7 linked regions of the Homo sapiens genome follow. The protein of the gene in region 1 interacts with the protein of each later gene in a biochemical or structural test. Each region holds a gene or a part of one and is shown in the gene's direction. Other genes may lie near its edges.

What was found.
Region 2: the proteins of NEDD4 (region 1) and SGK1 form a complex in vitro, tested with the Homo sapiens proteins (3 studies listed by BioGRID, with this or other methods).
Region 3: the proteins of NEDD4 (region 1) and SCN5A form a complex in vitro, tested with the Homo sapiens proteins (3 studies listed by BioGRID, with this or other methods).
Region 4: the proteins of NEDD4 (region 1) and PMEPA1 form a complex in vitro, tested with the Homo sapiens proteins (2 studies listed by BioGRID, with this or other methods).
Region 5: the proteins of NEDD4 (region 1) and GABARAPL1 form a complex in vitro, tested with the Homo sapiens proteins (2 studies listed by BioGRID and IntAct).
Region 6: the proteins of NEDD4 (region 1) and RAP2A form a complex in vitro, tested with the Homo sapiens proteins (2 studies listed by BioGRID).
Region 7: of the proteins of NEDD4 (region 1) and SNCA, one has a biochemical effect on the other in vitro, tested with the Homo sapiens proteins (3 studies listed by BioGRID).

What each region holds. Positions count from the first base shown.
Region 1 is NC_000015.10:55,825,902-55,829,840, reverse strand, and holds the end of NEDD4 (E3 ubiquitin-protein ligase NEDD4), read left to right. Parts: 3' UTR 1-2,919; downstream 2,920-3,939. UniProt on the Homo sapiens protein: E3 ubiquitin-protein ligase which accepts ubiquitin from an E2 ubiquitin-conjugating enzyme in the form of a thioester and then directly transfers the ubiquitin to targeted substrates. Specifically ubiquitinates 'Lys-63' in target proteins.
Region 2 is NC_000006.12:134,202,547-134,206,794, reverse strand, and holds part of SGK1 (serine/threonine-protein kinase Sgk1), read left to right. Parts: intron 1-280; exon of another isoform or gene 281-384; intron 385-4,248. UniProt on the Homo sapiens protein: Serine/threonine-protein kinase which is involved in the regulation of a wide variety of ion channels, membrane transporters, cellular enzymes, transcription factors, neuronal excitability, cell growth, proliferation, survival, migration and apoptosis.
Region 3 is NC_000003.12:38,551,440-38,555,687, reverse strand, and holds part of SCN5A (sodium channel protein type 5 subunit alpha), read left to right. Parts: coding exon 1-32; intron 33-1,138; coding exon 1,139-1,409; intron 1,410-4,129; coding exon 4,130-4,248. UniProt on the Homo sapiens protein: Pore-forming subunit of Nav1.5, a voltage-gated sodium (Nav) channel that directly mediates the depolarizing phase of action potentials in excitable membranes.
Region 4 is NC_000020.11:57,702,911-57,707,158, reverse strand, and holds part of PMEPA1 (protein TMEPAI), read left to right. Parts: intron 1-4,248. UniProt on the Homo sapiens protein: Functions as a negative regulator of TGF-beta signaling and thereby probably plays a role in cell proliferation, differentiation, apoptosis, motility, extracellular matrix production and immunosuppression.
Region 5 is NC_000012.12:10,219,195-10,223,442, forward strand, and holds the end of GABARAPL1 (gamma-aminobutyric acid receptor-associated protein-like 1), read left to right. Parts: intron 1-1,245; coding exon 1,246-1,364; coding exon of another isoform or gene 1,365-1,517; exon of another isoform or gene 1,518-1,788; intron 1,789-2,592; coding exon 2,593-2,658; 3' UTR 2,659-3,934; downstream 3,935-4,248. UniProt on the Homo sapiens protein: Ubiquitin-like modifier that increases cell-surface expression of kappa-type opioid receptor through facilitating anterograde intracellular trafficking of the receptor. Involved in formation of autophagosomal vacuoles.
Region 6 is NC_000013.11:97,458,029-97,462,276, forward strand, and holds part of RAP2A (ras-related protein Rap-2a), read left to right. Parts: intron 1-4,248. UniProt on the Homo sapiens protein: Small GTP-binding protein which cycles between a GDP-bound inactive and a GTP-bound active form. In its active form interacts with and regulates several effectors including MAP4K4, MINK1 and TNIK.
Region 7 is NC_000004.12:89,819,845-89,824,092, reverse strand, and holds part of SNCA (alpha-synuclein), read left to right. Parts: intron 1-1,704; coding exon 1,705-1,847; intron 1,848-4,248. UniProt on the Homo sapiens protein: Neuronal protein that plays several roles in synaptic activity such as regulation of synaptic vesicle trafficking and subsequent neurotransmitter release.

The sequences.
Region 1 (3,939 bases):
GACTTAAAATTTTCCGGGGAACTACTAAAATGTGGCCACTGAGTCTTCCCAGATCTTGAAGAAAATCATATAAAAAGCATTTGAAGAAATAGTACGACAACTTATTTTTAATCACTTTTAAATAATGTGTTGCATTTACACAGTTGTTTCATGCTGTCTTTAGAGTTAGGTGCCTGCCTAAAGCCAGGCACCACCACACCTGGCTTTAGAGTTCACACAATAGGATATAAGTCCTGTATGACTTAAATAGTGAATTTTGTCCTTAACATTTACCTCTTGTATAGTATCTGCCAGGCAGTTTTTTCTTAAACTACTGAGATGATAACTGTGAAATATTTGTGATACGTGTCATGTGTGAAAAGTTTGATGCATTTTGAGATGGAAAACTGAAATTTGGAAAAAGAAATACTTTACTATTGAGTAAACTACAATATATTTAGTGCTACTCGCAGCTATTTATTATTTTGTAGACCTGCCTTATGCACCTTACTGCCTAGATTTTTGGGAAAAAACTTTGGAAAGTGTGTTACCTATATTTCTAGCCAACTAACTCACAGAAAAACTGTTTACTTCTTCACTTTCGAAGTATTTGGCTTTTGTTAATATGCAGTTTTACTAAACAGATGGTTCATAAGACATGTGAAGCAAATTCATATTTGCAATGGGTAAAAAGTATTAAAGCCTTTCTCTTGCCTGCATATCCTATTGACCATTGGTATAGTCATCACTTTTTCATATTTTAGTGTAGTTAGAAGAATTCCTTCTTCAAACATTAAAGATCCACAAAGCAGTATTTCTAAATATGCCTTGAAGAACTAAATGAAGTGTATAGCACTTGCCTTTACTAGATATTCTTTACACTTGTACAATTATGTAGTAAATGTATGTTTACAGGGTTTATCATGTTTACAGATTAAGCTAATTTCTGTAGTCGCATTTTTATATTTTTAGTATCACTCTAGTAAAAAAACCAAATAATTTGTTTAAAATAACCAAAGAGTTGTTATAATGCATAATTTGTATTAAATTTATTACTATTTCTTATGCCTTTTAAAATACTGTTTACTATGAAGACAATGTTTTTAATTACAAATCCAGAATTCTGTAGGCAAAATGCTACAGTTCATATCTTCCTTTAACCAAACTGAAGTACATAAAGACCATGTACATGTATTCATCAAACGTTTATTGAATGCTGCGTGCCTAGCGCTGTGCTATGCTCTGGGGTAAGAGTTGTCAGCTTCAGAGAAGCTGAGTCCTGATCCTCAAGGAACTTGCAAATGTGTCTATGAATTTGTAAAACAATCAAAAGTAGGCGTAAGCAGAATAAGGCAAAAGGGAAAGTGTTCTAGGTTCCAGCACACCTGCAAAGATAAAGTGTGCCAAGACTGTATTTATATTTCATACTTATATTGTTTCATCCTTATATTGGAATGATTATATAGAAAATGCTCTTAAAAAGATTAAACCTATTTCTCAGTATGGTATCTTGGTGATTTAGGAATAATTGTAAATATATGTTACGAATCTTCTTAAATATATATATATACACACCCTGTGAGAACTGTAAAAAGTACCTCTGGTTCTTGGTTTAAGTTTGTTGGGGTATAACATGATGAGTACTCATTAGCACCTGATAGAAATCTGAAATGTGACAGTAGCAAAACCACTTTCTACTTTCCAAACACCACAGCATCAGCATGGTTTAGGGGAAGCAATTCACAGATTAATGTACCCTGCGTTTTGTCTTCACCATTGTCAACCAGCAGTCAAGGATGAGCACCAGGTATAGTCCTGGTTTGATATCTCACCAGCCATGTGAACTGAAGCAGCTTACTTAACCTCTCTGGATTCATATTTCTTCATCTGTCAAATGAGAGTAATCATGCCCACCCTCATTGTCATGCCAGATTGTCAGAAGTTCCAGACAGATGAGAAAGCAAAAAGTACTTTGTAAAGTGTTATACAATCAGAAGGTGCTTTGTGCTGACCGTCAGATTGTGTCAAGTCAGGTGTGCAAATTGACCACACTCCCAAAGAATCATTTAAAAGTAAAGTGACTTCTAAGAGACAAGGAAGTAGGAACATTTCTGATATTAAATATATAAATAATATGGATACACATGTGTATATCTGTATATGGATCTTACCATCATAATTCATTTTCTTCATATCAGCAAAGTAATAGTAATGTGGGCCAATGCATTTTGGAAATGTCCTCATTATGTAGAATGGAATGTGAAAATTATTTTTGTTAAAACAGGATTTTGCCACAATTATTTAAATATTATGTTTGTGAACTATCTAAGCATGAGAAAATACAAAGCTTTCTTTGTATCTGGCTGATACTCATTTGGATGATTCTGTGACTCATAGAACATGATGTTAAATGAGACCAGACTCAACTGCCACCAGTCCCCAGCTGCAGACCTTCATCCCCTTCATCTCCCACTAGGGGCTCGTGGTCTGGAAGAAACATCTATCAAGCAACACAGCCCCTTATCCCAGATAGAAAAGTGTCTCAAATGCATTCTACTGCGGGACAGTCAGTAGGATCATTTTCATAAAGCAAGGACATCATATGTTTCTAGAAATTACAAGCATATAACTTTAGCCTACAATCTCTTATTAAAAATTTTTAACAAAATTGTATTACAAATGCATTTCATCAGAACTCAAATTTAAATGGTGTTTGTTTTGGGTTTTTATTTATAATGCTGAAGTTATTCCATATAAGTATCAAGTTAAACACAATTCATTTTGATTATAAACTATTTGACTTTTTAAAATCTTCTGACACAGTAAATATATATATCAAGATTGATGTATCAAAATTTATTGCACACTTTAAAGTGTAAAATCATTTTTTAAAATCTTGAATCCACAAATAAAGTTCTATTCTGATTTTAAAAAACAAAACAAAACTGTGGTTCATTATAAAATAGGAGTGTTTCCAAGTCAGTATGCTGGGTGATGTCTTCTGGTCTAGTTCCTCACAGCAGCACGTTAAATTTTCAGTGCAATCCTAAACTTATTACCTGATGAACTAACATGATTATAAACTCTCAACCACAGATAATTAATTTCCACTTTACAAAAAGGTCGTATTGCATAAGTCTGGTTGTTAGTGAAATAGCCAGAAGATAAAAATAATAGCTAAAAATGGACTGGATTTCAGGCACCTTGCTGCTCATCAAAGAAGCCATTCTTGTAGCCAACCACTATTTACAACATCATTTCTATGAGAAAAAGAGTTCGGAGTGTTAATTCAGAACGAAGTGTCTTTTCCTCCTTCCTCTCAGGCATGAGAATTAGTTTCCCAGTTAGAAGGGAATCCACTCCCACCCACTCAAGCCAGCCTGGGAAGGTGCTGTTCCAGCCCCCTGTTTCTGCCATAATCCAGGCCATAGCTTTTAATTTTGGGGACCTAGGCCATGGCCCTCTGCTTCCACGTTTCCTGTTCTAGCCAACTCGGGCAGCAGCTAGCCCACAGCATGCCCCACCTGTACAAGAAGTCCTTGCTTTGCTGTCCATCACGGCAGACATTTATTTTATAAATGATATTAAACTAAGGTATTAGAATGTCAGTACCTCATTATGAAGAAAGAGACTTAGTAGATTTTTGTCTTTTTCCTTGAAAGTTAAAGCCTATCACACTAGCCTCCTCTTTCTGTTCCGCTCATCTCTTCCCCTGCAATGCATCCTATGCAGTCCCTCCATCACAATCAGTGTTTCCTTTTTAGCACACAGATTTGATCAGGTTACTGTACCGCCAAAAAACCTGAGAGCTCCCCAGAGCCAAAAGCATGAAGCACAAACCCGTTAGCATGGAGGTTCGCATGGAATGCAGTCCATCCTCAGCCTAAGGTCTCAATTCCACCTTCCATCATACCTCACTCAGGTGCCCTTGGTTCCCCTCCAAATCAGAGTCCTTCCAGC
Region 2 (4,248 bases), on another chromosome or scaffold:
CCAGGGTTCAAGCGATTCTCCTGCTTCAGCCCCCCAAGTAGCTGGGACTACAGGCATGAGCCACCATGCCTGGATAATTTTTGTATTTTTAATGGAGACAGGGTTTCACCATGTTAGCCAGGCTGGTCTCGAACTCCTGACCTCAGGCAATCTGCTGAGCTCGGCTTCCCAAAGTGCTAGGATTACAGGTGTGAGCCACCATACCTAGCCTTGCAATCAATTTTACCCTAAAAGTCCTTTTGTTATGTCTTCTTTTCAGTATCTAAAACGTATATACTAGATCCCTTTGTCGTTTATAAGTGTGATGATTGGGTTTTCATGTTCCTGTGTGAGATATGCCTCCTTCAAGCCTTGTTATGATGTCTGCACATTACCTGCCTGTCATTTAAAAAAAAAAAAAAAAAAAAAAAATATATATATATATATATATATATATATATATATATATATATATATCATCAGGTACAGCTTTGTGGATTGTGAAGCATATTTAAGTGTTGGGAGGAATGAGGAATGAGTCTATTTGCTGGAGTAGAAGACAGAGGAGTTGAATAAAGTGGGCAAACACATGAGTCCAAGTTTGTTTTCTAGGGCAAGGAAGAGATTTGAAAACCTAGGGTGAATCATACTTCAGAATACTTATGGGAGGGCATGTATACTTGCACTATGATATTAGGGCTGTACATCTAATCAGAATCAGAAGAATGCCACTTTATGAGATCGGAGAATATGCTTCAGGTTATATGATTAGAAATTACGCTTAGACAAAGAGTAGGGTATGTTCTCATAGCAAATAGAAGACATTTAAAAATTCTTTTTCACAAACACACATGAGCCGTGAGGCCTAATTGCACAAAGTAGACACTAGAAATAAAAGGGAAGGTGAAGCAAAAAGGAGCTAAAACAATTAAGAGAGTGATAATAGAGCTTTCACCTTTTCTAATGAAATAGGTCTAATGAAATAGAAAACTCACGCTGATATCTGATATTTGTATTATGCCTCACGCTTTTACAAGGAGTATTCACAGAAATCTAATGTAGTGTTTGCCGCAATCCCTTGAAATAGGAGAGACAGCCCTTTCCTTGTTATGCCTCTATTAGAAATGAAATAATAAGCTGAATAGGTTAGCTGACATATCCAAAGCTCGCAGCCAGAAAATACCAAGGCTAGGAGAATGGAGAGTGGACTGCCCAGTTCTATAGCACGCTTCTTAGGAAGAAGCAGCTCTCCTAGCAGAAACAGCTTGGGCTAAATCTGTGCTATAATCTGTTCTTCATAAAAGGGAGTCAGAGGCTGTGCCTATTAGCAGAAACAGGAGGACTTGAGAAGGAAAGTGAGAAACTTTCTGATGGCTTTTTTTTTTTTCAAAGACCAGACTTACGGTCTAAACATTATCAATTTCATCTGTCAAAAAATTGTTTTCTGTCTTGTTTTATTATATCTTTTGAAGAAAGAAGAAAAAACATAAAAGTGAATTAGCCTATTTATGCCATCATTTCAGTCCATCAGCAGTATACCACCACAATAAACAAGCCATCTGCTGGCTAATACTGCTAGTAAGATCTACAGCACATGTGTTATGAAGAAGCAATGTAGAATGAAACATTACCAAAGGAACATAAATGATTCTTGATGTTATGTAAAGAAAATGGAAAGGGAGGGAAATCTGTACAGGACAGGTCTAGAAAATGGTGCTTGACCAGCAGCCCTCAGGACTGCTCTATCTGTGAAGCAGCTATTCTTTATTCCTTTACTTTCTTAATAAACTTGCTTTCACTGAAAGAGAGAAAGAGAGAAACAGAGAAAGAAAGAAAGAAAGAAAAAGAAAGAAAGAAAGAAAAGGAGGGAGGGAGGGAAGGAAGGAAGGAAGAAAGAAAAGAAAGAAAGAAAAAGAAAATGTTGCTTGGACAATTTTTGAAGCCTAAATAAATTATGTTACGGGCTGGGTGTGGTGGCTCATGCCTGCAATCCCAGCACTTTGGGGGGCCAAGGTGGGTGGATCACCTGAGGTCAGGAGTTAGAGACCAGCCTGGCCAACATGGTGAAACCCCTTCTCTACTAAAAATACACAAATTAGCCGGGAGGTGTGGCACGTGCCTGTAATCCCAGCTACTTGGGAGACTGAGGCGGGAGAATCACTTGAACCCAGGAAGCAGAGGTTGCAGTAAGCCAAGATTGTGCCATTGCATTCCAGCCTGGGCAAAAAGAGTGAAATTCCATCTCAAAAAAAAAAAAAAAAGTTACAAGAAAAACTAATGCAGAACACATAGAGAAATAGGAATAGAAATATTTCAGACTTACTCTTTTTTTTTTTTTTTTTTCCTGAGATGGAGTCTTGCTCTGTCGCCCAGGCTGGAGTGCAGTGGTGCAATAGACATACTCATTTTTAAAACGTTTTTATTACTTTTCCTTCATCAGTAGTGTTACAAAGAATGGAGTGTCCCTCCTACAAGAGCTCATCTCATGAAGATCCTTCCCAGTCACCAACTTAACCAACTCATAAAGTAGGATCTATGTCTAGAGTAATTATTTATTTATTTATTTATTTATTTATTTATTTATTTATTTATTTTTTGCCTAGTTGGTCAGTCCATTACTAAGAGTGTTTTAAAATCTCCACCTCTAGTGGTAGAATTGTCTTTTGGTTCTTTTAATTCAGTCAATTTTTGCTTTATGTATTTTGAACCTCTGTTATTAGGCACATATACTTTTTTTTTTTTTTCTGAGGTGGAGTTTTGCTCTTGTTGCCCAGGCTGGAGTGCAATGGCATGATCTCGGCTCGGCTCACTGCAACCTCTGCCTCCTGGGTTCAAGCAATTCTCCTGCCTCAGCCTCCTGAGTAACTGGGATTACAGGCACATGCCATCACTCCCAGCTAATTCTTGTATTTTTAGTAGAGACGGGGTTTTGCCACGTTGTTCAGGCTGGTCTCTAACTCCTGACCTCAGGTGATCCACCCACCTCAGCCTCCCAAAGTGCTGGGATTACAGGCATGAGCCACCGTGCCCAACCACACACACATCTTTATGATTATTATTATTTCCTAATGAACTGATCATTTTATCATTAGGAAATTTCCTTCTTTATCTCTGGTAAAAGTCTTTGTTTTAAGTCTATTTCTTCTGATAGATACAGCCAGTCCAATCTTCTAAAGCCTACTTTTCACATGGCATATTTTTCTTTCCATTTTCTTTCAACCTGTGTCTTATAGTTAAGGTGCTTATCTTATAGACATCATGTGGTTAGATTTTCCTCTTAAAATCCTATCTAATGATCTCTGTTTTTTTTACTTGTGATGTTTAGCCCCTTTATACTTAATGTAATGACACAGTTAGATTTAACTTTACTGTTTTGCTATTTGTTTTCTATATGTCCCTTCTCTTCTTTGTTTGCTTATTCTTCCTTTCCTGACTTCTCTAGGATTATTTGAATAGGTTTTAGAATTTAATATTAATTTACCTGTTGACTTTCTAGTTATCCTCTTTGCATCACATTTTCAGTGGTGCTCTGAAGATTACAATAAATGACTTTATTTTTATTTTTATTTTTTTGAGACAGAGTCTCACTCTGTTGCCCAGGCTGGGGTGCAGTGGCACAATCTTGGCTCTCTGTGACCTCCACCTTCTGGGTTCAAGTAATTCTCCTGTCTCAGCCTCCCAGGTAGTGGGATTACAGGCACGTGCCACCACGCCTGGCTAATTTTTGTATTTTTAGTAGAGACGGGGTTTCAGTATGTTGGCCAGGCTGGCCTCGATCTCTTGACCTCAAGTGATCTGCCCACCTCGGCCTCCCAAAGAGCTGGCATTACAGGCATGAGCCACTGTACCCAGCTGAGAATAAATGACTTTAAATTTTCATAGACCATCGTCAAAATTTGCAAACAATGTAGGTGCATCTACCCCACTCTACCCTCATCTTTTATATTATAGCTGTCATATGTATTATCTATATATGTACTAAACCCTACAGTACAGTGCATTTTTTAAAAAATAAGGGGAAAATTATCTTTTGTTTTTATCCAGATATTTGCCATTTCTGATGTTCTTCATTTCTTCCTGAAAATCTGTTTCTCTCTGGTATCATTTCCCTTTAGCCTGGAAATTTTCCTTTAGGATTTCTTTTTTTTCATGTTTTTATTATTTTTTTGAGATAGAATCTTGCTCTGCCACCCAGGCTGCAGTGCAGTGGCGAGACCTCAGCTCACTGCAACTTCCACCTCCCGGGTATAAGCAATTCTCCTGTCTCCT
Region 3 (4,248 bases), on another chromosome or scaffold:
AGAAGCCCCAGAAGCCCATCCCACGGCCCCTGGTGAGCCAGGCTCCTGGTTTTGTGGGAGTGGGGAGGATCTTCTGGGGTCCCTGGGAAGCTTTCGTGCCACATGGCCAGCCATCAGAGCCGCTTCACAGTCTTTCAGCCCAGCCTGAGGGGCACTATCAGATGTCTGATCATGAAGAGAGGTCCCAGCCTCGTAGAGATAGGGAGGAAGGTATGATAAGGATGTAGCATCCCAGGACACTCCCCACCCACAGGAACCCTCTGTACCTGAGCAAATCTCCTCCTTCCCCTCAAGGATGCAGGCTTTCCCCAGGAAAAGCAGTGCAGCCTTCACAGCCCCACCCCACCCCACTCACAGCCTCATCCTTGGAACCCCAGAACAGTCAGGGAGCCGGATTCCTGAGTCACCTGGTGGGGAGAGCCAAGAGCTCTGGAGAGCGGGGTCCTCTCCAAGACTGACTCCCTTGGCCCAATCAAGCCATTATCCAAAAAATTGTGTGTGTGTGTGTGTGTGTGTGTGTGTGTGTGTTATTTATAATCTTTTCCAAGTGGGAGAACAGAAGAAAAAAAAAAAAAAAAAAAATATATATATATATATATATATATATATATATATATATATATATATATAAAATCTTATTTCTTTCCCCAAATAATCTGGGCTGATTTACAATTAAAGACACATACAAATATGGTTAGTAGAATAAATAAAATAAATTCCATAAAAAAGTGGAGAAAATATATTAATCTAAGCACTGACATAATTACTAAGGTTGAAGTTTAAATTTGCCCTTGAGCCTTCAGACTGTGGGAACTAAAAGGGAAGCACAATGAACAGTGTGCTAAGGATGCTCAGGGCAGGAACAATCTCTCCCTGAAGATCCATCATGGAAGGCCTCATGGAAGATGGAGCTCTGGGGATGGGCCTTGAAGCCCAGGAAGCATTTCAGCAGGACAGCCAGTGGCTTTAGCCTCCAGGACTTTTTCCTCTGCACTCTCTGTGGCAGTGTTGCAGGGGCTTTGGGCTCACTAGAGGGTAGAGTGGGAGGGTGGGTGGTCTGGGATGAGAGGCAGCAACAGGCATTTGCCAGCCTCCCCAAGGGCCCTGCTGAGCACTTTCCATTTGCCTCTCCTTTCAGAACAAGTACCAGGGCTTCATATTCGACATTGTGACCAAGCAGGCCTTTGACGTCACCATCATGTTTCTGATCTGCTTGAATATGGTGACCATGATGGTGGAGACAGATGACCAAAGTCCTGAGAAAATCAACATCTTGGCCAAGATCAACCTGCTCTTTGTGGCCATCTTCACAGGCGAGTGTATTGTCAAGCTGGCTGCCCTGCGCCACTACTACTTCACCAACAGCTGGAATATCTTCGACTTCGTGGTTGTCATCCTCTCCATCGTGGGTGGGTATACAAGTCAGCTGGACGGAGAAGCCCTCCCCAGCCAGGCCTCTCCTCCAGCCCCTGGGTCTCTGCTGAATGCCATGTACAACCCTAGCTTCTTTCATAATTTTTTTCAGTGCATTTCTCACCCCCCTTCTCCCCTCACACATACACGCACACACACCTCTCCAGAGAGAACTTATCTGGAAGGCCCCACTTGGGCCAAGGAGACCAATCTGGCAGAGGACCCAGCACTTGCTCCTGGCCCCACCCTCCAGAGGAACTGGGAACACAGTTCTCTAACTGCTTAGAGAGCTTCAAGGATGAGTCTGGGAATGGGAGTGGGTGCTGTGGAGGCTAATTCTGCCTGCACTTAGGTTGAAGGAGAAGGAAGCTCAGGATGAGATGGGTCCCCAGGGATGGGGGATAGGTGGCCCTCCAGAGTAGAAATTATCCCTGAAGATGGAAAATTCTGGAGCTAACCGCCAAGGTGTATGCCAGACTCCTTCAGACATCACCTGCCTCATGCAATTCACCCAGTCAATTCAGCACCAAAGGAGGGAGATTGTGCAGCTAGGGAGAAGCAGAGACCCAATCCTGACCCATGTCTGTTTGACCTCGGAGCCCAGATCTTTTTTTTATATAACAGCTTTACTGAGACATAATTCACATACCATAAAATTCACGGTTAACTTTAAAGTCACTTTAAAGTATACAATTCAGTGTTTTTTAATATATGCACAGAGCTTTGCAACCATCACCACTATCTAATTTTAGAATATATTCCTTTCCCCAAAGGAAACTCTACCCATTTAATAGTCAATCCCCATTCATTTCCCCTCTCCCTCACCCCTGAAAACCACTTATCTAAAGTTTTGAGGGACCACCAAACTGTTTTTCAATATGGCTGCACCTTTTTACATTCTCGCTGTCAATGTATGAGGATTCCAATTATTTTGCCCTCACCAACACTTGTTATTGCCTGCATTCTTTTTATAGGAGCCCTCCTAGTGAGTATGAAGTGATATCTCACTGAGGTTTTGGTTTGCAAAAGCAAATGACTGATGACTAACGATGCAGGACATCTTTCCATGTGCATGTTGGTCATTTATATATCTTCCTTGGAGAAATCTCTATTCAGATCCTTAGCTCATTTTTAATTGGGTTATTTCTCTTTTTCTTGTTGAGTTGTAAGAGTTCTTTACATATTCTGGATCATAGTCTCTTATCAGATATATGATTTAAAAATATTTTCTCCTAGTCTGTGAGTTTTTTCATTTCCTAGTGGTGTCCATTAAAGCACAAAAGTTTTACATGTTAATGAAGTCCAGTTTACTTATATTTTTTCTTTTGTCACTTGTGCTCGGAGCCCAAACTCTTTAACTCTACCCCCAAGGGGCTCTGCCTTGCGGTGACTGTGACTTTCATCTTTCTGCCATATACAACCTCTGCCTCTGGTAAATGTAAAGGATAATGCAGGGGCTAAGGCAGGCACTGCTGTGGCTATAGTGACGGGAAGATGGAAGCACAAAGTAGGGTCAGGAATCTCTGGGGGGTCTCAAGCAGGATGAGGGTGAGAGCGTGCCTTATGGGACTGGAGAGGAGTTTTAGAGAATGCAGGATGTCAGCAGCAGGAATGGAACCATTGAGGGACAGTCTCAGAGGCTTTGGAAGGTTCAGCATGTACTTTGGGATCTCTCCTGGCCCGCTGTTTGGGCGGTACCAGAGAGGAGGAGTGGTTAAGAGATCAACTTGGAGCCCGAACGTCTGAGTCAAATCCCAGCTTCTCACTCACTAGGTGGCAACTTGGGTAAGTTACCTCACCTCTGTTTCCTCTTCTGGAAGATAAGGATGATGGCATCTGCTCACTTCCTAGGACAATGGGAAGGACTAAATGAAATGATGGCTATAAAGTGCTCGGCCCATTGCCCCAGTGATCGTAAACACTGGACCCATGTCAGTCAGTGACATTATTATATAAGGAGTCTGGAAAGGGCACTTGGGCCATATAAGACAAGTTTATTTCACTCTTTATTCCATGATTTATATCCATGCCCCTTAAAACTCCAAACCCAGGTAGTCACAGGAGACCCAGGGGCAGTGACGCCCTCAAAGGAGGCAGAGTTAGGAGAGCGATAAGAACCATCACAGAGAAGCTGAGAGAAGACACTGGCCATGGCGTGGCATCAGGGAGCACTGATTTCTGGGCCAGTGTTTCATGCCCTTCGATGGGCACATAAATCATCTGGGCTTCTTAAGATGCAATGGGCTGGGGTGGAGCTGAGATTCTGCATTTCTGATAAGCACCTAGGAGATCCCAAGGCTGCTGGTCCTCAAACCACACTTTGAATAGCAAGGAGCTAAAAGACCTGAGTTCTGGCCCAAGCTGGGTGGGCAAGATACTAAGCAGATCCCCTCTGGCCTGAGAACCCAAGATGTAGAAGATGGGCCTAGGACAGCTCTATTGTGTAGGTACACACTGAAGATTAAGGAATGAGGGGGCTGAGAAGGAACCCTGCAAAGGACCCATTTTTCTGGGTCACAGATGCAGACATGGAGACTCAAACAGACAGGAGCAGGCAGAGTCCTAGCATGCCCAGTGGACGCAATCCTGGAAGGGCCGCCTCTCCTTGGCTCCTTGCCATATAGAGACCCCCCCCCCACCGCCAACCCCTGCACAGTGATGCTGGCTGGAAGACAGAGGTGCCACCAGTAGCCACAGTCTCTGTTGTTTCCCACAGGCACTGTGCTCTCGGACATCATCCAGAAGTACTTCTTCTCCCCGACGCTCTTCCGAGTCATCCGCCTGGCCCGAATAGGCCGCATCCTCAGACTGATCCGAGGGGCCAAGGGGATCCGC
Region 4 (4,248 bases), on another chromosome or scaffold:
GGAGTTGTTTGCAACGAGAACTTGATGGATGGTTTGGAGTTGGGCTTTGAGGCAGTGTCCAAGTGGCTCCTATCCTGTAAGATACCTTCTTTTGGCAGAAGGAAATTGACCTTGCTAGGTCCTTAAGCCATGATGGGCCTCACTGTCTTCATCTGAAGAATGAGGCCGTGATGGATGAAATCTAGAATTCTATAGTCTTTCAAGATAGGGCCTCTCCCCTGCTGAGCCTGGCTGGAGGTCTTCAGGCTGGACCGGGCTTCCCACCCACTGCTGGTTCCCCTGTGTGGTCTTCAGCTACCCCAAATTTCAGACCTGAGAGGAGCCTACGCAAGCTCGGGGTTCACATCCCTGACTTACAGATGAGGAAAGTCCACCGTGGAAAGTTTTGCCCGAGGTCCAAAACCCACACCAGCCCCAGGCCAGGGTGGTTTCTCTTGGACTGCACGCCCACACCTCTTGAATTTGGTACTTGGGCCCCAGAGCAGGTCCTCCTTGAAATTGGGGGCTGGGGGAAATTGTCAGAGCCCCTTTGTACGCCGGGAGCCACGTCTGCTCTCAGGATGCTGAATGGAGTGGGCTTGACTGTAACAGGACACTCCTGGGGCCCCATTTTTTCTGAGAGTCGAGGGATGAGGCTGCTGTCTGGTGGGAATTCAGTGTTCCCAAAACATACCCGTGGGAAAACCCTTTCTTTTAAAAAGCCAAGGGTCCTGGGATTAAAAGCAGGCAGCACGAGTGACAGCCTTGCAGATGTCAGCCTGGAGCTTGAAGCGGCTACTTTTGAGGAAAGGACTCCTGGCACCTGGTTTTCCTGGCAACCTCATCTACCTCATTTCAGTTCTGCTGCGTCTCAGAGATTACCCCCGGTCTTTCTCCTCTGGTTATTGCCTCAAACTTCTGGGGCCCAGATGGATGCTAAGTTCGCTCTCGGGAAAGACTGAACCTGGGGCCACCCGGTGTCTGCTCACGCGGGAGGCGTTTCCTGAGAGTTCTGGGAGGTGCCCCTGCCCTGGGCCCATCTCTGGTGGTATCTACGGTGGCAGCTGTCTTTTTAACATCACCCACTGGCCAGAGTCACCGAGCCTCTGATTCTTCTTCTCCAACCTTTTCCAAACAAATATGAGAAAATATCAGAAACTCACAGGACACCCAGGTTTCCCTGGGCTTGCCTGGCACATGCTGTTTGACACTTGCTTGAATCAAGTGAGGGTGTAGAGACAGTGCCTTGGCACTGTGACATTCTGAGCCCGGTAATTCTTTGTTGGGGGGCAGGAAAGGCCGTCCTGTGCTCTGTAAGGTGTTACCAGCACCCCTCTCCCACACCCACTAGATACCAGCACCCCTCTCCCAGGTTTGACAGCCAGAAATGTCTCCAGACATGGTCAAATGCCCCCTACTGAGACCACTGTTTAATCAGTTAGTGGTTTCTCCTAAGGGGCTTGAGGGCCAGAGGGCAGCATCTGCGTTGCCAGGAGACCCTTAATTCCCGTCAGACGTTCGTCCCTGTGAAGGCCTGTGGCCACTCCGCAGCCACTCATCCACTCAGCTTTTACTGAGTGCCTGTTGTGTGCCATGAAGGAAAGATAGGGGCTTCCTCTTGAGATGAAGTTTTCCCGTTTTCGTCTTGGATTTGCTTTTCTAAGGAGAGACCCTGGCGTTAGTGAAAGCTGATGTTTTGGATTGGGGTTAAAATACAGATGTCCAACACCAGCTGTTCTCCCCTGTGGACCCGCTAAACCCTGGGACTTTTCACCCACAGGTTTTCTGACTGTCTGGGTTTTAGGTTGTGGTGCAATAGGGGAGTTATTAAGGGAGTTGAGTTCTATGACCCGAATCTTAGGTCAGACAGTTGGCCTCAGCTTCCCAGGAGGTCTGGGTTAAGCCAGCTACACTGCCCAGTGTGACCCAGGGTCGAGGTGAGTTTAGCATTTGTCAAAGCACAAAATAACTAATTGTTCCTGTACAAACACACACGCGCCTGTGAGTGGGTGCTTGCATGCGCACACGTGCAGACACACACACGCGCACACACAGTCATACACAGGCACACACAGCTTCTACCCCATCTGTCTTTCCTGCCCTCTTCTCTTTGGGTTGGGAATGGTTAAAACTTCTGGGCATGTAAGAAGAAAAGGAGGAAGAGTGCACATTCTCCCCTGTAAGAGGTGCGAAGGTATGCACCCTCTCCATAAAAGAAGGAAGGTGGACCCCTGTGTGCCGCTGCCCAGGAGAAGGGAGGCCGTCGGGAGGTCTGTGGAGGCTGGAAGCGTCTACAGCAGAGTTGCCTCCCTCAGGAGCCCCAAGGAAGCCTCCATGCTGCAAGATGCACCCGCCACCAAATTGCCCCAGAGCCACGGGGTCAGGTGTGCCCACATGCCTGCCCCCACCATCTCCACTCCCATCGTGGCCCAGGGCCAGGGGGTTTAAACGTTTATAGTCCGGTCAATAGTTTAAAAGCCAGAAAATGTTTGGAGGAAGGTGCTGGTGGCAGGGTCCAAACCTGAGGATCGGTGTGGCCTTCTCTCTTCAGGTGTTAGCATCCAGAGACCAAGTTTGCAGGCACCTCGGTGTCTGGGATCCTGCCCAAAGAGAAGGAACTCTTACACGGTGAATTTCGGAGGCTGTGCTGCTGCCAGCCTCGGGTTCTGTACGGTGCACATGCTGAGAGAAGGAGATTGAAGCCGAGGGCCCATTTTTTGCTTTTTACAAAGTGTTGCGTAACGCACGCATGGTTGGGGCACGTGCGGGAGCTGTGCGGGAGACGGACCTACTCTTCATGCACCCTCTGGAGTGACAAGGATGGTACCATGCTGTGCCAGGGGCTCCCCGAGGCTGGGGGAGCATGGTTCAGGGAAGCAAACTCAGTTGTCTTTGGGGTGGGCTCCAGGGAACCAGGGGCAAGAGTCCAGTTTAAAGGCACTGTGGCCACTGCTCAGCCCACCATTGCCACATGGGCCCTGAGTGGCCAGATCTTTCCGTTCCAGGGCAGCCGAATGGTTAGATTTTGACATAAAACTCCTGGGTTTTAAGTGCTGGCAGTTCCTTTTGTCTCCCCTGTCACCAAGAAGCCCCACAGAACCTGCTGGCAGACCCCATCTGTCTCATCAAGTGACCTGCCCTGCTGTGGGTGGGTTAGGAGTGAGACCGAGGGCCAGAGGGATGGAGGCGTCAAAACTTGCTGGCCGTGTCCCCTTTGTGCCCCCCTTCACTGTCATCTGATGGGTCTGTAAAGTGGGGTGATAATAGTCCCTGTGCTGAGGGTGCAGAGAGATTCTGGCTGTGTGTGGCCTAGTGTCTGGAGCAGCTGTGTGTTCATAGAGGTGAGCGATGATGGTGGGGCGGATTGGACTCGATGGTCCATTCTGCCTGGTTCCCTAGCGGTCACTCTGTAACAGAGTGCCTAGTGATGAGAAGGCCTTCACCAGAAAAAGGTTGCCCATCCTCGGACTGGCTGGGAAGGTTGGAATCAACAGGCCCATCTGGGGCCCATGGCCTTGAACATGGAGGTAATTGACTATCTGTGTAATACTCCTTGTCCTTGCCAGGCCCACCGCAGACCTGGCTGGCAACGACCCCAGCATGCCCGTTGCTGGCCCAAGAGGCCCCAGACGGTCTCTTCGGGTCTGCCAGCAGGGTTCCCTTAATCCACTGCCAGGCTTGGTGGACAGAGGCTGGAAGAGGGGGTACAAGGCAAGGCACAAAACTGGGGCCGTGAGGTCAACACCGCCCTGACGTCCAGATGCCCCACTGGCTGCAGTTCCTAAGACAGCCTAACCTGGGAGCAGAAAGCCCAGAAGCTTCTGATGGTTTGGGGCTCCCCTTTGTGAGAATCAATTGAAATTTTTAACAGGTGATCATATGTGGGGGCAAACCATTAAAAGAAAGGCCCTGATGTCCCCCACCCCCATCAACAGGTGCAGCGGGGGAGGGCCGGGGAGGGGCCGGTCTTCAGTTTCACTTCTGCTCCAAGCACTCCTTCCTGCCTTCTCCCCAGGGTGGGCTGCACCCCTCTGTGAAGCTGTGACAGTGCCGAGTACTGACAGTCAACCTCATTTTCCCGTTGGATGACACTACAAAGCCAAACCTTGACACCTCAGGGGTCTCGTCAGGGTCTTGTCAGGCAGGCACTGGCAGAACTGTTTGTCACCAAACCGGGAAAAATCCCAGAATGACTTACCAGCCAGGGCAGGGGCTTCAGCACCCTGGGGTGAGCCTGGAAGAGCTTGGGGCATCCCCAGACTATCCGAG
Region 5 (4,248 bases), on another chromosome or scaffold:
TGTAATCCCAGCTACTCAGGAGGCCAAGGCTGGAGAATGGCTTGAACCTGGGAGGCAGAGGTTGCAGTGAGCCGAGATCGCACCACTGCACTCCAGGCTGAGTGACACAGTGAGACTCCGCCTCAAAAAAACAAAAAACAAAAAAAAAAAACCCCAAAATTCGGCTTTGTTAATTGTGATATCAATTTGTTCCAAAAAGAAAACCAGTCTGGCTTCTTGAGAGGATTATATTTTAGAGTTTCCTGATTAAATACATCTTCTTAAGCTACATTTTTTTAAACTAAGTTTTGTAGATTTTGTTTGAGATTATAAGACATATATTCATTGTTGGGTGTGGTGGCTCATGCCTGTAATCCCAGCACTTTGGGAGGCTGAGGCGGGTGGATCACAAGGTCAGGAGTTTGAGACCAGCCTGGCCAACGTGGTGAAACCCCGTCTCTACTAAAAATACAAAAGTTAGCTGGGCATGGTGGCGCGTGCCTGTAATCCCAGCTACTCGGGAGGCTGAGGCAGGAGAATTGCTTGAACCTGGGGAGGTGGAGATTGCAGTGAGCCGAGATTTCGCCATTGCGCTTTCAGCCTGGGTGACAGAGTAGAACTCTGTCTCGGAAAAAAAAAAAATACATATATTCAGTCTTCATCGTGATCCTTAATGGAATACACACTGCATCCAGGACACACTGGAAAGATTTTGTTGATTTGCTCCAGAGTTAATAGGTTTGAATATCAGCCATCTAGAAAATTTTCAGTATTCTCAAGTAAAGGCAAAGCATTGAACCTTGTTTAATGCCCCAACACTGAGGTGACTGACTGTGCTAAGATGACCAGAGTCCAGTGGACCCCTTTCCATTGCTAAGTTTTTCTTAGGGAGGGTCTGGGGATGGAAAGAGTTTCAAGTCAGGTTTAGACAGTGATGGGAATGTTTTGGTCTGGATGCACATGGTATTCCTTCAACGTAGTCCTCAGGCTTTGAGTGGATATGCTAACATGAGGTCTGAGATTGAATAAGAGGGGAAAGGAGGAATAAATTCCACTATGGCAAGTCAGGGACTGTGTGGGCTTCCGAGTTTCCCTTTTTATTTTGAAAGCTCCAGGCCGGTATTTGGCTCTTCTCAGATGGTATATAAAGCTGGTACTGACTCTAAGGTGAAAAAATGCAATTGAATTTTTTTCCAGGACTTACCCTTCTACTAATTCCTTGTTTTCTTACTTTCTTTTCTGCCCTTTTCTTCTTCCATCATCCAGTTGGCCAGTTCTACTTCTTAATCCGGAAGAGAATCCACCTGAGACCTGAGGACGCCTTATTCTTCTTTGTCAACAACACCATCCCTCCCACCAGTGCTACCATGGGCCAACTGTATGAGGTAATGGTTCTGGTTGCACAATACTGGATGCCGTCCAGTGCAGTCTGGCATCCTCTAGCCCTTGTTCTAGATGCGTTGATAACACATCTGAGAAGTGGGGCAGAAGGTGTTATTTATCCGGATCCTCTTACATATGGCAGTGTAAGGCTCTGAGAGATTAGATACCTCTTGTTTTTTAGGGATTAGCCACTCTACTAGATTTAATCCTTCTGAAATCTTGTCTGACTATAGTCTTGTCTGACTATAGTGTTTTAATGCTGGACTGTTTATTGAAACAGCAGGAAGTGATTCCTGATAGCAAAAGTTCCAAAGCGTCAGCCCATCGCAGTTCCTGCTATTCTGGTTGGTAGCATGTAATTTGTAATGCATTCAGAATCCAGTTCATTATTTTACTCCCATTTAGCAACAGATTGAGAAAGCACGTAATAGTAAAGCCAGCTCCTTCTAACTCTGAGGCCAGCCTCTGCCAACTGAAGGATTCTCCCCACAGTCAGCTTCTTCTATGAACTCTGAAGTTTTGGCTTAAGACAACCACATTGATACTAAACAAGGGGAAACTTTTCTTAGAACAAAACTAAAACTGTGAAACAGATTCCACATTATCTGGGCACAATGAATCAGATAAAATGAAATATAAAATTAAGGCAAAGTCTGTAAATGGATTCATGTCTTAACAGATAAACTCAGGAGGAATAATTTTTATGTGATGTGGTTTAATTGGAAGTGTCAGAATCTGAGGAAACTATAGTGAAGGACTTTATTATTACTGAAAATATAACCTGGGATTATAACTATTGTTTTTTGCAGTATTTTGCATAAGATGCTTCCTTCTCATTGTGCTCCGTTAATGAATTACGTAAACTTCTAATAATCCTGAATCTTTTTTTGCATAGCATATATTCCCTGTTAGTATATGTCCCATTATATATCCATCTGTGGTATCTATGTTCCCCTTGCTAGGAGTGAGCTCTTTAAGAGTGAGGACTGTGCCCTAGTCATCTTCATATCCCTGATACCTATGTGTAATATGTTTTCAATGAAGGATTTTTGTTTGTGAACTCAGAGCTCAAAGTGTAATTCCAACCACTTCTCCCTATCCTTTGCTCCTCTTTTAAATGGGGACTAATGATACCTTCCATACCTGCTTTACAAGGTTGTGTGAGGCTCAGCATCTTAGAGCTAATGAATGAATATGTTTTCTAAACTGTTGTCTTATCTCTTCCCCTAGGACAATCATGAGGAAGACTATTTTCTGTATGTGGCCTACAGTGATGAGAGTGTCTATGGGAAATGAGTGGTTGGAAGCCCAGCAGATGGGAGCACCTGGACTTGGGGGTAGGGGAGGGGTGTGTGTGCGCGACATGGGGAAAGAGGGTGGCTCCCACCGCAAGGAGACAGAAGGTGAAGACATCTAGAAACATTACACCACACACACCGTCATCACATTTTCACATGCTCAATTGATATTTTTTGCTGCTTCCTCGGCCCAGGGAGAAAGCATGTCAGGACAGAGCTGTTGGATTGGCTTTGATAGAGGAATGGGGATGATGTAAGTTTACAGTATTCCTGGGGTTTAATTGTTGTGCAGTTTCATAGATGGGTCAGGAGGTGGACAAGTTGGGGCCAGAGATGATGGCAGTCCAGCAGCAACTCCCTGTGCTCCCTTCTCTTTGGGCAGAGATTCTATTTTTGACATTTGCACAAGACAGGTAGGGAAAGGGGACTTGTGGTAGTGGACCATACCTGGGGACCAAAAGAGACCCACTGTAATTGATGCATTGTGGCCCCTGATCTTCCCTGTCTCACACTTCTTTTCTCCCATCCCGGTTGCAATCTCACTCAGACATCACAGTACCACCCCAGGGGTGGCAGTAGACAACAACCCAGAAATTTAGACAGGGATCTCTTACCTTTGGAAAATAGGGGTTAGGCATGAAGGTGGTTGTGATTAAGAAGATGGTTTTGTTATTAAATAGCATTAAACTGGAATTGACAAGAGTGTTGAGCATCCCTGTCTAACCTGCTCTTTCTCTTTGGTGCCCCTTATCTCACCCCTTCCTTGGAATTTAATAAGTCTCAGGCATTTCCAATTGTAGACTAAAACCACTCTTAGCATCTCCTCTAGTATTTTCCATGTATCAGGACAGAGGTGTCTTATGTAGGGAGGGGGCAAGTATGAAGTAAGGTAATTATATACTACTCTCATTCAGGATTCTTGCTCCCATGCTGCTGTCCCTTCAGGCTCACATGCACAGGAATGCTACATGATGGCCAGCTGCTTCCCTCCTTGGTTATCATCCACTGCAGCTGCTAGTTAGAAAGGTTTGGAGGGATGACTTTTAGTAAATCATGGGGATTTTATTGATTTATTTTCACTTTTGGGATTTTGTGGGGTGGGAGTGGGGAGCAGGAATTGCACTCAGACATGACATTTCAATTCATCTCTGCTAATGAAAAGGGTTCTTTCTCTTGGGGGAAATGTGTGTGTCAGTTCTGTCAGCTGCAAGTTCTTGTATAATGAAGTCAATGCCATCAGGCCAAGGAAATAAAATAATTGCTTACCTTAAAAATCCACTGAGTTCAGCAATGTTGCCTTTATTTTGTATGTATTAGAATAGATGATATGTGGACTCTCTGAACAAAAGAACTAAGTGGGGAAAGCTGTTAGTGATGAATGTTCACATATGGTCAGACCCATATATGTTTACTCAGTTCTTTAGTGAGCAGGAGTTGCTGTTCAAGGGTGAATGTTATGCTGGGGCAGTGTGCCTGCTGCGTTGGTGGTGTGTGTGTGTGTGTGTGTGTGTGTGTGAGAGAGAGAGAGAGCTTTTTCTCCTCCAAAGATAAGTGCATCGTCACTGTTCTATGTGTTTCTGAAAGCTGA
Region 6 (4,248 bases), on another chromosome or scaffold:
ACAGACCTGACAGTACAAAATGGGTTGCCTGTAGGTATGAGTTCCACGTCACTAAAAATGTTCAGACGTAAGCTCCAAAGCCATTTGGTAAGTTTATCATGGAAGTAATTGAAGCATCAGTTTTTTTGACGTTTTGCCTTGGGACTCTCTTGGTAGATGATTTTAACTGTGTGAAAAGATGAATGAGGGGACTTAGAAAAGCCTTTCTGATTCTCATTTCCAAATTCAAAGAGAATTATATTTCAACCTGCTTATCACTAAGAAGATACCAGCATGTTAAAATTCACATGAAGTATGACCTTCTTTAAATACGCTACGATGCAGCACCCTCAAAAGTAAAGTACAGAAACTGACAGTAGTGGTATCTGTCTACAGTTTATCATTGGTGAATAAATGAAGGGAAGAAGGAATTGAGTCTGGACTTGCCGCATATGGAACCATGAACTATACACATAGAATGTTGTTTGGGGTCACAAAGTAGTAGATTAGGCCAGTGATTCCTAAACCCTGCTGAACTTCAGAATCCATCTTCAGAGCTTATAGATATAGACATATTACATATTTTAATAGACTCTTGGGTCCTGATCCCACAGATTTAGATTAACTAGCTCTGGAATAGGGCCCAGAAATCACTATCTTTAAAAGAATTCTCAAGTTGTGTTGATGATCAGCCAAGTTCAGACACGACCAGAATAAAATATATATACGTATACATACCTACATATCAGGACAGTTACAAGAAAGGAGAAAGCAAAATAAAGTATTTTGATAAACACATCAAGTTCTTTTGAGTTACTGATATTTTAAAAAGCTGTCTCGGTGAGAAGCCCATTAACATTCTACAGCTAAGTGATGCTACAGCCAGTATTTCTGATGTTTCATTCAGTCCATTAAGCAGAGCTGCTTAAAAGAACTAGTTTTATTTATTTATACATTTATAATCAGGTTCATGAATACAGTCAACACTATGGAAATTCTTGTCAATAAAAAAGTGTTTGTCCACAGACTACACACAGAAATAAAATTATTAGACCTGCATCAGTCACCGTCTGAGCTGGTCATGCCCTTAAAGGAAATTTCAAGGAAGATGGGCTGAAGTTGGTGAGATATCTGCTGATGTTTAAGATGTAAGCAAGGTGGTATCTTACTCATGATCAGGTTAACAATAACACATACATTGAACAGTTTGAGAATTTTGCATCTTTAGCTTTATGTCCAAATGATGAAAAGGGGGTAAGGAAGAAATGATGAAAAGGGGGAAATGATGAAAAGGGGGAAAATGAAGGCAACCTGCAAAACTGATAATGAAAATAGAACATGAAAGTAACTGTCATCACCCACTAACAAAGCACCTCATCTTCCTAAATAACAGAGTCAGCCCTCTAAGTCAGTCTGTCATAAGTGCCAGATTTGTTTTCTGAGGCCACTTTTGGCACCCGAATTCCTGAGGTCTAGCTTCAAATGAGCATTTCCTCCACTGCCAGAGTCCTGCAGGAGGCTGTAGAGATGGATCCCACAGCTGGTCCCTGCACTGACAGGCATGCTGTCGCCGGCTCAGGCATTGTCTAGGGCATGTCCTGCTTAGAATGCTCTTCCCCTAGAACCTGCACGGTAGGGAGCAGATTCCCAGAAACCCTTCCCATCTTTGTTCACAGCCACTTTCCCAACAAGGCCTGGGATCATCTTATTTAAAACTGTGGCACCTGTGCTCCCCACCCACCACCTGATCCACATCTTTTTTTCCATTGCACTTAACACTTTTATTGTAAACCCAGAATTGACTTGTTATGTTTATTGTTGATGTCTGCGCCCTCTGCTAATTACAGAGCTTTATTTGCTTTGTCCATTGATGTAAGTGTCTAGAATAGTGGCTAGCACTTAGTATATAAATATGTGTTGAGTGGATGGATAAGTACATGATGTATTGATTGTTCGATTGTTCATTACTAGCTATTTATGCCACATCAGGCAGTTTTCAGTATAGCCTTCAGTATTCACGTAGTTAAAACCATCCCAAATATTTGTGTTTGAACAACGTTGTCTGTGAAATGGAACTGCCTAGGTCATGAGTGCATTTTGGAGTTCTGCTGTTGAGTCAGAGCATGCTGGCAGTAGTGGCTCCGCTTGTAGAAGTGAAACCTCCTGCTTATGTTTTGGCCCCATGAGATCTCATAAGATTTCCCCCAACATTTTTGGCTTTACTCCTGATGCACACTTTCATATCTCTTAAAGATCAGCCTGTTGGACGTTATTCTTAGAACAGTGCTAAGCACTCAGCAATTAACCTAGTCAATGATATGTGTTGACTGTGGGTGTGACCCACCATGTCTGTTGTGATTTTTAACTTCAGAGTATCTTAGGAATTATCCAGTCCAGCTCATTTTATACTTCAAGAAACTCAGGAAACCAAGATTAGGTTAATCTTCTAAATTCACAGTACTAGCTAGAGGCAGCCCCTTCTGGGACAGGAGTCCTAGTCTGTTTGGTTTCTTTTTTTTTTAAACCCACCATATTGCTAAAACAGATAGCAACACCAGCTTCCTCATGCAGTGCAGTCATCTACTGTCAACACAGGTCTTGGCTTCTTTCCCTTCAGCGTCTCACCCATCTTTCTTAAGGAGGATCCAGATTTCTCCAAATGTTACCTTCATATGGGACCCTATTCTGTCACCCCAATCCAGAGCCTTCTTAGAATGCCTTTCCCACAGGGGCCAGTATATTCTCTCGAGTGCCCGCTGTTTGGGAATGCTTGCTTTTCTGCTTTCCTAGGCCCCCATCACCATGGATGTTCAGCACAGGGACTCTGGAGAAGCACCTGGTTAGTGTCTGGTGGCTGCTTTGTTGTTTTTGACTCCCATCTTTTTTGCCTGTCTCTTCCTCCAGCTTCACCCTCAACTCGGTTTGCCCTCAGGAGTTCTTTACCTCCTTTGATCAGTTTCTCCGGCTCCTTCTTCACCCTTTGTGGCTTCTCAAGGCCACATCACTAGAGTTAGGAGGGGAAAGAAGCAAGCACCCTCCTTTTATCTAGTACTTCATTTTTTTCAGCATTATCTCATTTGCCCTTTACAGCAACCCTGTGTTAAGTGGGAACAGATACTCTTACTCCCTTTTTACTATCAAAGAAATGAAATACAGATATGTAAAGGAAATGATCTCATTGGCAGAACTGGAAGCAGAGCCTCCAAATCTGGGTGTAGAATCTTTTCTACTGTCCCAAATTTTAACAGAGAGACAAAATTTATCACCGTCTGGTATTCTGAAATGTACATAATTTTTCTCAACATCGTACTCAGTTTAAAAATCTTCTGAGGATATTAATGTGGATTTCTCTAGTGTCTTTAGAAACTTGATTTTAGAAAAGGCCACTGACAAGTTAGTGATATAATAAACAGGTCCTCTGATACTGACTGCATTTTCATCTACATTTACCAGTTATTAAATGCTGTTATATGTGGAACTGTGTTTGCAATATTTTATTTACTGTTTTGAGAATTAGGTTGATGGTAAGATTTATTCAAATTCTTGATTTTAATAATGTATCAATACAACTTAATAATTTGATTTATTTGCAAGTTTTGAAAATCCACATATTCTAGTAGATCCTGAACTTAACTAAAAGTGTAAGAAATATTTCACATATAAAACATGATACAGGCTGGGTGCGGTGGCTCACGCCTGTAATCCCAGCACTTTGGGAGGCTGAGGCGGGCGGATCACGAGGTCAGGAGATCGAGACCATCCTAGCTAACACGATGAAACCCTGTCTCTACTAAATATACAAAAAATTAGTCGGGCGTGGTGGTGGGCGCCTGTAGTCCCAGGTACTCAGGAGACTGAGGCAAGAGAATGGCGTGAACCCGGGAGGCGGAGCTTGCAGTGAGCAAAGATCATGCCACTGCACTCCAGCCTGGGAGACAGAGCGAGACTCCGTCTCAAAAAAAAAATATATATATATATATATTTATATATTTATATTTATATATTTATATAGATATTTATATATTTATATATATTTATATATATATTTATATATATATTTATATATTATATATATTGTATTTAAACATTCTTTAAAATATTTATCATTTATCTCAACTAATAGAAAGTGATCTTATCACTTTTTATTATTCATAGACAGACTGAAATTTGTTTTAACTTAAATTCAACCAATGTTTTACTTAATTTTATTAATGTTTTTAAGTTACTCCACTGTCAAGCAAAGCATTTTAAAGTACACTGTGATGTATA
Region 7 (4,248 bases), on another chromosome or scaffold:
CAGGCGCGGTGGCTCACGCCTGTTATCCCAGCACTTTGGGAGGCTGAGGCGGGCAGATCACGAGGTCAGGAGATCGAGACCATCCTGGCTAACACGGTGAAACCCTGTCTCTACTAAAAATATAAAAAAATTAGCCGGGTGTGGTGGCGCGCACCTGTAGTCCCAGCTGCTGGGGAGGCTGAGGCAGGAGAATGGCCTGAACCCGGGAGTCGGAGTTTGCAGTGAGCCGACATCGTGCCACTGCACTCCAGCCTGGGTGACAGAGCAAGACTCCGTCTCAAAATAAATAAATAAATAAATAAATAAGTAAATATTGGCTTCTTCAACTGGTGAGATGAAACCTATACAATAGTCATGTGAATAGCACTAAACAGCTGACATGGTGTAACTCCTCTCAGACTGAGGCTTATCTGGGGAGTACAAAGCATGTCAAGAAAATGTGCCTTCATTTCCTTAGATGAGTGTCCCCATCCTCCACTCTCCTCCACTGTTCTCCTCTCTGCTTCTATGATATCAACTTTTCTTTTTCTTTAGATTCCACATGAGTGAGATCATGTGGTTGTTTGCCTTTCTGTTTCTGGCTTATTTAACTGAACAAGAAAGTTTTTGACATGAAATTAAACTTCTGCTTGTAAACTCAATTCAAACTATTTACACTGTCTTCTCAAAAATGTTAACTTATTTTAATAAATCTACTGAATGACCGTATCTCATTTTGTTTTATGAAAAGAAATTGTAAGGGTGCTCAATAGCCTCTTCATTTTCATACTGTCTAGCTCCTGTGCTCCTATTAAAATTACTGCAAATTTAGCTTTTTAAGAACCCTTTGTTTCACTACCTGAAGTTCTATAAAAAGATCCAAGTTCCTTCACAACCGTTTCTTATGCTGTTATTCGTACATATGTGATAATACCACGTCTGAACACGTAGATAATAAGTAGGGGCTGGGTGCGGTGGATCATGCCTATAATCCTAGCACTTTGGGAGGCTAAGGCGGGTGGATCACCTGAGGTTAGGAGTTCGAGACCGGCCTGGCCAACATGATGAAACCCTGTTTCTACTAAAAATACAAATAATAATAATAATAATAATTAGCCAGGTGTGGTTGTGGGCACCTGTAATCCCAGCTACTCGGGAGACTGAGGCAGGAGAATAGCTTGAACTCAGGAGGCGGAGGTTGCTGTGAGCTGAGATTGTGCCATTGCATTCCAGCCTGAACAACAAGAATGAAACTCCATCTCAAATAAATAAATAAATAGAAGTATGTATTGTGTTGCTTAGAAGGTGTGGTGGAAATTAACTTGCTGAGTGAGATCAAAGGATTGGCACTGAATTGAAATAAAGAAATATTCATGCTGAGTCTGGTTCAAATATAACTGCACCTGTAAGAATTGCTTTCTGTAAACTTTCCATAGTATAAACCAAATCCAAATCACTCATGGCTTTACATTCCTGATCGTTAAACTTGAAGCACTTTTTAATACTGCATGACTTTAGCCAAAATATCTTAGCCAAGATTCAATGTTTGGTTGAACCACACTCACTTGGACATCTTGGTGGCTTTTGTTTCTTCTGACCACTCAGTTATCTATGGCATGTGTAGATACAGGTGTATGGAAGCCGATGGCTAGTGGAAGTGGAATGATTTTAAGTCACTGTTATTCTACCACCCTTTAATCTGTTGTTGCTCTTTATTTGTACCAGTGGCTGAGAAGACCAAAGAGCAAGTGACAAATGTTGGAGGAGCAGTGGTGACGGGTGTGACAGCAGTAGCCCAGAAGACAGTGGAGGGAGCAGGGAGCATTGCAGCAGCCACTGGCTTTGTCAAAAAGGACCAGTTGGGCAAGGTATGGCTGTGTACGTTTTGTGTTACATTTATAAGCTGGTGAGATTACGGTTCATTTTCATGTGAGGCCTGGAGGCAGGAGCAAGATACTTACTGTGGGGAACGGCTACCTGACCCTCCCCTTGTGAAAAAGTGCTACCTTTATATTGGTCTTGCTTGTTTCAGGCATTAACCCAGATAAATGCCATGCAAATTTTATAATTATTATGATTGTTTCAATTTCTGGAAGAAAGTTAATGAAACAAAAAATGTAGTAAAATGCCAAAGGAACAGTGACATTTCAGAAAGAATGAGGGCTTTCATGTTAATTGTAAGTCTTGGAATTTCTCTTCCTTGGAGTAACAAATCCCTTTGTGCCTAATTTCCTAATTTCCAAAATAAAGTTCTTTTACTTATTTCTTTATAGTGACATCATCTCTTATTAAATGGCATATCTGCATATTACATAACAGTTCATTGCCAAATACATATTTGTGGGAAATGAGAGACTTAAAATACATACCAACCAGAGATATAGTTTTGAGGTAGATTTTAAAATTCTGAGAAGAATTTTGACTGAATTTTTTTGACAAACATGGGACACGAATAAGATTATACCAAAGATATTATAACTTTCATTTTAAATATGGAACTAATACAGTATGAGGTGTCAACAACGTTGAAGTTTCACAAACATCACCACTACAACAGCAAAATAATTTTTGCTTTTTCCCTGCCACAATGACCTCCTTGCTATTTCTTGAATAAATCAAGCATACCCTTGCCCTGACACGTTCTTGGGGAGGCCTGCCCTAATCTATATAAAATTGGAGCCATTCTTCTCACCTCTGGTATTCCCAGTCTCCCTACTTTTTTTCCTTCTTTCTTTCTTTTTCTTTTTCTTTCTTTCTTTCCTTCTTTCTCTCTTTCCTTTCTTTCTTTTCCCTTCCTTCCTTCCTTTCTCCCTTCCTTCCTTCCTCCCTCTCTCCCTCCCTTCCTTCCTCCCTTTCTTTCTTTCTCTTTTTTCTTTCTTGCTTCCTTCCTTCCTTCTTTCCTTTTCTTTCTTTTTCCTTTCTTTGCCAAAGTGTTATTCACCTTTAAATATAATACATAATGTGCTTACTTTAATGTATGATTTTTATTTTATTTCTCCCTTCTAGAATGTAGGCACCATGAGAGTGAAATATATTTATTTTGTTCATTGATATTTCACAAGTGTCTGGGAGAGTTTCCAACTTACAGTAGACAATTAACAAACATTTATTAAATTAAGGAGGGAAGGAAGTGAGTAAGCACAACAACTTTCATTTCTGGGTCTTTTATAATCATATGCTTAGTATAAGAACAGTGCTATTCAGCTATCCAAAAGTTACAATCAAAATGATTTTGGATGAATATCTTGAAAATTGTGAGAAAGAAGTTTTATTTGCTGGCAAACTATTCTGGGTTGTTTCCACTTCATGTAATCCTAAGTAGCAGCCTTACCTTGATAGCCCATTAAAACTCTGATAATAAAAAGGCAGAACAAAAATATCTGTGATATATTTAGATTTACTACATGTACTTACATGTCTAGTGTCTGGTGCAATGGATGCTAATGATGGCAAATCCTTACTGGGCTTCTAGTGAAGTTCTTCAGCTAATGTTTGAATGCATGGTTGGTCATGGTGGTACCCCTTTGTACAAAATATGCTTTTCAAATAATCTTATTAGGGATAATAATTATATTAATTCCTGGTTTCCATCTAAAATTTTAATTCTATTTATAGCTTCGTAAGATTTCACAAGTTAAGAGGGACCTCAGATTAAATTAGTACACAGGCAATTAATCAGTTTTGTGTCTCCGACCCTTTTCACGGGCTAATAGAAGCTATAGACCCTCTTAGCTTCAGAAAAATGCGCACTCACATACGCACATCAAAGAGCTTAATGGGAAGTCCATTGACAGACCCTCTGTTCAGATCAATCTTCTGATTGTAGAGATGAGGAAACAGAAATCTACAGAGGAAGTGGGTAGTCCAAGATTGCACAGTCATTTGGAATAGACTGGACACCAGTAGTACTTTTCCAGCCACTATATCACTTCCCCAAGCACTTCCTCAAAACTTACCTTCCTTTGGGTCTTTATACATTCAGTTATGGACAACTAGATTTAACTAGAGGATTTTATTGCTTCAGAATATTAAGCAACAGGGAAACATGTACCGTCTTTTATTCACCTGCATTTAAGGCATACAATATAAATTGCAAATGGAGCATGAAAGTGCTTAATCTTTTACAAAACTGGGTTTGCTTTCCACCCATCTAAAAATACTTCTATTTATTTTAATATTTAAAGCAGAAATCTAAGTGATGTGACAAAATTAATCATTTGGAGATATTTCCCTTATAGGTAGTATAGTTTCTTACTGATTTCTAATATG